Homo sapiens: one gene and its partner. The protein of the gene in region 2 purifies or fractionates together with the protein of the main gene of each other region. This does not show direct contact. Each region holds a gene or a part of one and is shown on either strand. Other genes may lie near its edges.

The links.
Region 1: the proteins of AIF1L (region 2) and TMIGD1 purify together in Homo sapiens (co-immunoprecipitation; one study listed by IntAct). This does not show direct contact.

The regions. Positions count from the first base shown.
Region 1 is NC_000017.11:30,331,021-30,335,588, forward strand, and holds the start of TMIGD1 (transmembrane and immunoglobulin domain-containing protein 1 isoform 1 precursor), read right to left. Parts: upstream 3,038-4,568; 5' UTR 2,980-3,037; intron 1,139-2,979; 5' UTR 1,114-1,138; coding exon 1,032-1,113; intron 1-1,031. UniProt on the Homo sapiens protein: May control cell-cell adhesion, cell migration and proliferation, cell morphology, and protects renal epithelial cells from oxidative cell injury to promote cell survival.
Region 2 is NC_000009.12:131,095,199-131,099,623, forward strand, and holds the start of AIF1L (allograft inflammatory factor 1-like), read left to right. Parts: upstream 1-1,332; 5' UTR 1,333-1,431; coding exon 1,432-1,462; intron 1,463-1,581; exon of another isoform or gene 1,582-1,603; coding exon 1,604-1,665; intron 1,666-4,425. UniProt on the Homo sapiens protein: Actin-binding protein that promotes actin bundling. May neither bind calcium nor depend on calcium for function.

The DNA of each region.
Region 1 (4,568 bases), on a different chromosome or scaffold from region 2:
TGTCTCTACTAAAAATACAAAAAAATTAGCCAGGCATGGTGGCGGGCTCCTGTAATCCCAGCTACTCGGGAGGCTGAGGCAGGAGAATCACTTGAACCTGGGAGATGAAGGTTGCAGTGAGCCAAGATCACACCACTGCACTCCAGCCTGGGCAACAAAGTGAGACTTCTTCTCAAAAAAGCAAAAAACTTAAGCTACTTGTAAAGATAATGGTATTGTTGTCTAGTATTTTATTAAAATATGGAATATTGAGTGGTTGTCATCTCTGGATGAAAGTATTTGGGGGGATTTGTACTTTTCTTTTTTTTTTTATAGATTGCCTGATTTATTTTACAATGACTATGCATTACTTTTAAAATCAGAAAAGAGTGGTAGGAGAGCAAATGCTGGAAAGATTTTCATGTGAAATGGTATGTTCAGATAAACAGATGATTATTTGGGGTAACATTAGTAATAAAATGCATTAAAATGTAGGAGGATTCTGGTGGTGGCTCTGGAGAGAATAGAATACTTCACCTTGTCTTGTAATAATAAAACCCTAAAAACAATATTTTTCCATTTGATTTTTTTTTTTTTTTTTTTGAGACGGAGTCTCGCCCTGTCGCCCAGGCTGGAGTACAGTGACGTAATCTCGGCTCACTCACTGCAAGCTCCACCTCCTGGGTTCACGCCATTCTCCTGCCTCAGCCACCCGAGTAGCTGGAACTACAGGCGCCTGCCAGCACACCAGGCTAATTTTTTGTATTTTTAGTAGAGATGGGGTTTCACCGTGTTAGCCAGGATGGTCTCGATCTCCTGACCTCATGATTCACCTGCCTCGGCCTCCCAAAGTGTTGGGATTACAGGCGTGAGCCACCCGCCTGGCCTCCATTTGATTTTTTATTGTTAGTTGACTCCTGTACTGTGAGCCATGCTAACTGTGTAGTCATTCCAATTTGGAATTTAAGGATATATCCAATGCCCATTGATCACTTTTCTTAATCGGAAATTTTTCTTTATCTAAAAAGAGGCCAAAAAGAACTTTAACTTACTTGTCATCTCACGTGGCAGAAATAAAATTACTAAGAGAAGAAATCTTCCCATTTGCATTATGACACTGCTCTTCCATGCCATCTTTAATGAGTTAAACTCAGATCTACTAAGGGAAAAATAGTGCAGTTGGTTTTGTACTTTGGTCTGCAATGAGTTCGTGAACCTTCCTTCTGTCTATTATGCATTTAAAGTGAAGTCCCAGATGAATCATCCCAGCTATAACGGTACTACTTCTAGCTTTTAATTAAACAACCCTGTCTGACTAAGTTCAAAGTACATTTAGTAGTAAGAAATTTTTTTTAAAAGCAACATAAAACCACAGGAAATAGGCTATGACAGATAGAGCAGCGTCAGGGTGCCCTGGGGAAGATGAAACCAGTCTTCCCTAGAGAAACTGATAGAATTTCATTTTAGCAGAATGAAACTTGTCTCATTCTCAGACAGTCCCTACTGAACAAAGTAATTCTTGTTCTGAAAGTTTTTCTTGGGTCATTTTTGTAAAGATGTTCTCTGATAATAGAGAGTTTTTGAGACTACTCCAAATCCCATAGATTCAAATGGTGTGTACGTAGAAAAGCCTCAATTGAAACATGGCCTCTAGTTTAAACCATGTTAATCTTGTCTTTCTCCCACTATTCTCTCTCTCTCTTCCCCTTGACCCAATGGACTAAAAATAATAAATAATAAAGGTGTCCTTTCTCCCTTCTTGCTTTTGCTTCAACTCTCCCTCTCCCTAAGATATTCTCCATTTCCATCTGGGAAAAAAACATATATTCATTACTTCCTTTCAAGAGTACTACTATAAATATAGCGAACCACATACGGAAAACTTTCTGCGCAACAGGGACTGTGCTAAACACTTTACATACATCATTTCAGTCACAATTAAGCCTCCTAACAACCCTCCTGAGGTCGTTTCTATAGATTTAAAGAGACTATGTAATTTGCCTGAGATCCCACAGACAGTAAATGTCAAGGTCGGGATTTGAACCCAGACTCCCAAGACCATGCTCTTAACCACCCTACTCTCAACCACCCTACTACCCAATCTACTGCCTAGATTAATATTCTTTTCCTTTAAGAAGCTGCTGTTAGGCTGGGTGCAGTGGCTCATGCCTGTAATCCCAGCACTTTAGGAGCTGAGGCAGGTGGATTACCTGAGGTCAGGAGTTTGAGACTAGCCTGACCAACATAGTGAAACCCCATCTCTACTAAAAATGCAAAAAAAAAAAAAAAAAATTAGCCAGGCATGGTGGCGAGCGCCTGTAATCCCAGCTACTCGGGAGGCTGAGGCAGGAGAATTGCTTGAACCTGGGAGGTGGAGGTTGCAGTGAGCCAAGATTATGCCACTGCACTCCAGCCTGGGCGACAGAGTGAGGCTCGGTCTCAAAAAATAAAAATAAAAAATAAAAAAATAAAAAAAAGCTGCTGTTAATCTTTTCCAGTCCCTGGCCACTGGGAGTTCTCTCCCCTTAACACCAGTATTAATTTACAAGAGCTGAAATATACCTATACCTACTCTACTCCTCCCCTGTCCCAGGCGTGCCCTGACAGGAGTAAGTTTCATTCATGCCAGGCTCACCCTTTCTGGCAGACAAGCCTGCATCAATCTTTTCGTAAGATGCAATTACTACTAATATTGATTCTTTTGTAATTTTAAATATTTGCCAAAAAGATTTCTATCACAGTGTTGTAACAGTGATTACTGCAGAATGTGGTCAATAGTAGAGTTTTCTCAAGCGCTCTGCACTACAAGTACTCAATAAAAACTGAGAGTGCAGGCTTCTTGCCAGACCTCACCCAGCCCTATTAAGGGGACAAATCTATGTCTTCTCTTTCCCTCCACTCCACCGAGACAGCAACTTTTCAAAATGTATTCCCCTCACTTGGCTTGTTTTTAATCTGTATGACTCTCTACTTTCTATATAAGACAGTCTTACCACTTACCTCTTGAGCTCTGAGAAGCTGACTTCCTTGGCCAACTGTTCCTCTGCCTGAAAACCCTAAATGCTTTCCCTGTTACAATCCTTTATAATACTTGAATTTGAACGCTTTATGACAGCAGGGTCAAATAAATAAGATAACTTGGGTTCAAAGTCTGTTTTTCTTTATGGAGTCTTAGAGAAGATAGTAATTGGGAAAGACATCTTCTTAAGATCTAAGTTTCTATGTCTACCTCGGTTACTAGGTGGGGCCGGATATTACTAACAGGGATGTGTTGTTCCAAGAAAGCTTGAACTTGTGCAAAAATCTGTAGCGCATCTCACTGAATATTGTCATATTTAAGTAAGATGGCTGCGTTTTGATCATCTAGCCTGGGGATTGTGAAGGGACGAGTCCAAAGAGAAGTTTGACTTTAACAGAGGTCAAAACATTGGAAGATTCTACACAACTTAAATAATGCTGGAAAAGTCTTAGTTACCACTAGTAACCCAAGCCCAGTGCATAAGCTGTACCAAGCCAGGCATGGCAGGGAGCCGTTTTTTTGTTGTTGTTGTTTGTTTTGTTTTTTGAGGCAGGGTTTCACTCTGTCACCCAGATTGGAATGCAATGGCACAATTGTGGCTGACTGAACCTCTGCTCCCAGCCTCCCAAGGAGCTAGGACTACTGGCGTGAGTCACCATGCCCAGCTAAACTTTGTTAATATATATATTTTTGGTAGAGATGAAATTTCGCCATGTTTCCTAGGCTGGTCTCTAACTCCCGGCCTTAAGCAATCTGCCCACCTTGGCCTAGGGAACAGTTTTATCCTCTTGAGGCTCTCACCTGATTGGGAGATCCTTGCATTACACTATGTTTATGGTATTGTTAACGATGCAAATTTTATCTGCCAAGTACTATTGTTCCCATTTACACAAAAATATAACAGAAGAATATTTATAGTTATCTACACATTTTAACACACTGCTGAAGCACACCAGCAATCTGCCTCTTACTAGCTATGTAACTTTGAAAAGTTATTTAACCTCCATGAGCCTCAGGATCTTCATCAATACAATGGAAATAGTAATAGTACCCTCCCTACGGAGTCACTGTGAGGATTAAATGAAATGAAGCATGTGAATCTGCCGCACAGTAAGCTCTTGGTAAACAGTAGCTCTTATTACTATTATTATTAATATAGGCTGAGCAGGGCATCCTAAATCAACACAACCTCACTATAGCATTGTTCAAGCAAAAATCAGAGCTAAGAGCAGCTCCTGTTGGCTGGGTTGCAAGCACCACCCAAACAGGTTTTGAGTTTGCCTCTCCAGGGATCCAAGATTGTCATTTTAAAATGAATTTAGCAATGGAGTGATGTTTTGGTTCTTGGTGCCTCCAAAATAGACCCTGAGACAGAGCTTTGAGTGCCAATAGTTTATTTAAAGGTGATCTCGGCCGGGCACGGTGAGTGGCTCACTCCCTTAATCCCAGCACTTTGGGAGGCCGAGGAGGGTGGATCATTTGAGGTCAGGAGTTCGAGACCAGCCTGGCCAATGTGATGAAACCCCGTCTCTACTAAAAATAGAAAAATTAGCCAGGCATGGTGGCGGGC
Region 2 (4,425 bases):
TTGGCCAAATCCAAACCCTTGGGTGAGTGGACAGAGGAGCGTCAGCTAGGAGAGGTGGGCGCTGGTCTTACTGGGGAGGAGGGGCCTGCCCCCTGGACTGCTGCCCTGACCTCAGCCCCATCCCATTCTGCCTAGCCCCTTGCTGGGCACTTCCCTCCCCAGGGACAGCCACAGAAAAATGATGATCTCGGCTGGGCGTGGTGGCTCACGCCTGTAATCCCAGCACTTTGGGAGGCCGAGGCAGGTGGATCACCTTAGGTCAGGAGTTCGAGACAAACCTTGCCAACATGATGAAACCCCGTCTCTACTAAAAATACAAACATTAGCTGGGCGTGGTGGTGTGTGCCTGTAGTCCCGGCTACTTGGGAGGCTGAGGCAGGAGAATCACTTGAACCCGGAGGCGAAGGTTGCAGTGAGCCGAGATCAAGCCGCTGCACTCCAGCTCTGGGCAACAGAGCAAGACTCTGCCTCGAAAAAAATAAATAAATAAGAAAGATGATCTCAGGGTCCCTACCCTAGGAGTCAGATGCACGGTGGGGCCATTCCTAGCGCTGCCTGCCCTGGACAGCGCCTGTCTATGCCTGTGGCCCAGCATCATTATGAGGAGTGCTCCCTTGACTCTGGCTGTCCTGATTTGGACACTAGACTTCATGGTCACCCTGGCCACAGGTACCCTATCCTGCATCCTGAGCTCCGCTCTTCCTGGAGTCATGGGCTGGTCTTTCCTCCTGGTGGCCTTGCGCCCCAGCTCCAGCTTCCTGACTTTTCTCTTCTGGAAATGGGAATGCCAAGTCCTATTTCATGGAGTTTTGAGAATGAAATGACTGGTGTACGGTGCAAAGTGCCTGTGAGTGCCCAAGAAATCTCTTTTATTAACAAGACACGAATTCATTCCAATTGATTTGACGGGCCACTGTTGTCACAGCAGCCGCACTGCCCCAAAGGCAGCAGTGATGTTTGAGCGCCGACTCCCCGACGGCACTTGGTCCTCACAACCACCCCATGGAGTTCATGCTAAGATCCTCGCATTTCATTTGTGTGGCAGGGACTTGCTGAGGTCCGGGGAGGGGCAGAGAGGAGGGGTGCGGCCGCCCCGCGCTTTGCACTTTCCGCGTCCTCCAGCAGAGGGGTCGGCCGGCGGGCTCAGCGTCCCGCATAATAGCCGCTTTGAAGCCCGCGGAGCGGGTGGCGGGAGGGGAGGGGAGAGGCGGGAGGGGAGGGGAGAGGCGGGAGGGGAGGGGCGAGGCGGGAGGGAGGGAGGGAGGGGCCGGCAGCGGAGGGAGGGGTGTGTCGGCCGCCCGCGCCGTTCCTCCGCCCCTCGGTCCCGCGGCCACACGCAGCTAGCCGGAGCCCGGACCAGGCGCCTGTGCCTCCTCCTCGTCCCTCGCCGCGTCCGCGAAGCCTGGAGCCGGCGGGAGCCCCGCGCTCGCCATGTCGGGCGAGCTCAGCAACAGGTTCCAAGGTAGGCGCCGCCGTCCCCGAGCAGCCACCTGTGCGCGCCGGGCGGACCGCGGGGTCCACCGCGCGCGGGAAGCGGGCGGGGACGGGGGCGCGTGGCCCGAAGAGGACCCCGCTTCCCAGGCCGCCTCTTTGTCTCCTCCAGGAGGGAAGGCGTTCGGCTTGCTCAAAGCCCGGCAGGAGAGGAGGCTGGCCGAGATCAACCGGGTAAGCCCCGCGCCCAGGGCAGCACGCGAGTCCCGAGCCGCGCGCTGCGCGGGTGCCACCTCTCCTTCCGCGAGGCCGTGCCCGCCTCCAGATCTACCCTCTTCCTTCCCTTCCCCTGGGCTTCCCTCAGGTGCCTCCCTCCGCCCCCAGCCCCGTCGCCTCCGACTCCAGGTAGGTCCGCCTCCGCCTCCCGCCTCCGGTCTCGGGTTGCAAGTTGTTACTCTTGCAACTGGGGACTGGGGAGGTGGGGCCGGGTCAGGAGCTCGGATGCCAGCCGGCTCGTGGCTCCCCGCAAGCCCGCTTGGGAGCAGCCCAAGGATTTGGCGCGGGAAGGGCCCTAGGCCAGTGATCTCTCCAGCTCAGAACACAGGCTCCGGGTCATTTGCTGGTCTGTCGCCCAGGCTGGAGTTCGGTGGCCCAATCTCAGCTCATTGCAGCCTCCACCTTTGGGATTCAAACGGTCCTCCCTCCTCATCCTCCCGAGTAGCTGGGACTACAGGCATGTGCCCCCACGCCTGGCCTTAGCTATTGTTGTTATAAGGGATTCAAAAGTACAAATAGAAGACTCTGATGGGCGTAGAGATCCTGGCACTTCCCCGTGGTCTCCAGCCTCCCGCCTCCCTCAAACACACCACTCCTCTTCACTCCAACTTTCAGGAAAGATTGCCTTAAGGGATTCAATGCTTTTCTTGCTGGTCCTGGTGGATTTCTCAAAAGAAATCTTTCCTGTTGTTGCCAGGCATCCAGTGAGAGCTCCATAAATTTACATAGATTCTAGAAGATAAGGAAAGATATCAGGACCTGTCTGGGTTGGCCAAAGCTCAAAGGCAGCACAGCCAGTGGCTTTAAAGTTCTGCAAGACCTGGGCTCAGATCTGGCCTCCACTGTGTGCCAGCTCTGTGGTCCTCAGCAAAGGGCCTCTCATCTCCAAGCAGGGCATTGTGCAGGCTCAGAGAGGGAAGGCCCGTGGCCTGCATGGCCCAGCACCCAGCATTCAGGAAGCACTCACAGAACTAGCATTATTTCCTGAGGTGGATGTCTCCCAGTTTCCTTCTTAACTGGTGGCAGAGGCACGCCCGCTGAAACAAGGCTTGGCATTCCCCCTGCAGGCTCCTCTGGTCCCCTGGACACCCAGGGTCTAAGCCCAGCTGACAGTCTGGAAGTGGGCCGCTGGTGAGGTCAGCAGAGCCCGAGAAGGCTGTGGGAGGCGGGTCCGAGCCTGGGGCCAGGTTGTGGTATTGCCTCTTGCCAGCAGTGTGCAGCCTTGATTCCCCCTTGGTTTTCTTGGACTGCTTGGATGTAGGCAGCCTGTCTGTTTTCCATCCGCTGGCTACAGGACTCCCATTCGGTCCCCAGCTACAGGGCTCTGGGGACCTCAGGGTTCCCCCTCCAGGTAAGCTCCGGCCTCCTCACCGCCACCCTCACCCTGCTTCCTGGGGGCATCTTGAGCACAACTGGAAGGTTGCCCGGACATCTGGCTGGGGTGCTCAGGGGTCTCGGATCCCTGCTGGGCTCCTTCCCAGATCACTGTGTGCCTGCCCAGCCTGGGGCTTGGCTGCTCTAGCCCTCTGGACAGAAGGCTGGAACCCCGACCTCATATAGCCCCCTGGGTCACTTGGCCAGGCGGGTTCTGAGCTGGCTGGAGCCACCCACAGCCAGCGGGACCCTGAGCCACAGACAGCTGGAGATGGGGGTGAGGTGACCATGGTTGGACAAGCCAGAAGAGCTAAGAGGGCGGGGCCAACCTAGCCCTTGGGGAGGTGGGTTGGGGGAGGGGGCGGCTCCAGGGTTGTTTTGGGAAACCGACTAGCTTGGCTTAGAAAGAGGAGGGACTTTAACAGCTGTCAGGGGCTGATCTGGGCAGCACTGGGACTAGGGAAAGTGAGCAGGAAGGAGCTGTGGTCTAACCACCTCAGGACAGCGCCCAGAGAGGGCAAGCAGCTGACCCAAGGCCACGCAGAAGCCAGTGACAGAGCTTGCAGCCCAGCGTCCTTCCCCTGCCAAGACGCTGTACTGAGACCCACCATGACAGCCCAGCCGCTGTAGGGCTGCTGAGGCCCAGGATCTGGGGCCCTGTAGGAAGGAGGCGCCAGGATCACACGGGAAGCTTGAGCTGCTTCACCACAGTGGAGCAGGGTGGCCCCACCAGTTTAGTCATGAGGTACCCACAAGCACTGATCTGTGACTCTGGGCAAGCCACTCACCTCTCTGAGCCTCCTTCTCCAAAAAGATAATGGTTGTGATTTTTTCAGTGAGACAATCTATGTAAAGCACCCAGGAGAGCTGGCTGCGGCCCTGATAGCTATCAGGACAGTTTCTTTGTTCGTGGCCTCAAGGTGCAGGGAGTGGAAGATACTCCGCCCTGGCTCATGCTGGTTGCTCAGCCCAGCAGAACCTCGTCTTCCCCAGCCTGAAATGGGAGCAGGGATCTCTGCCCCTCTGGAGTCCCTGCAACAATTAACCGATGGAAGTGGATGGAAGCTCTTTGCAGACTGTGGGGGAGTCACTCTGTGTGAGAGTCTGAATTGGTTCACCCACGGCCATGGGGGCAGTGCAGAGGGCCTGAGCTAGGTGGATTGTAGGCAGAATTGTGCTGGCAGCCCGGACTGCCTTCCTTTGGGGTGCAGCTTCACTGCCCCACTGGAGTGTGGATTCTGGGGGCCTGGGCTAAGCCCAGGATTCACTGCCAAAGCCCTGCTTCTGTGCCAGGCAGCTTGGGCACCGCCATGGCTGCTGCCTGGGGCACAGCCCAGCTTGGCT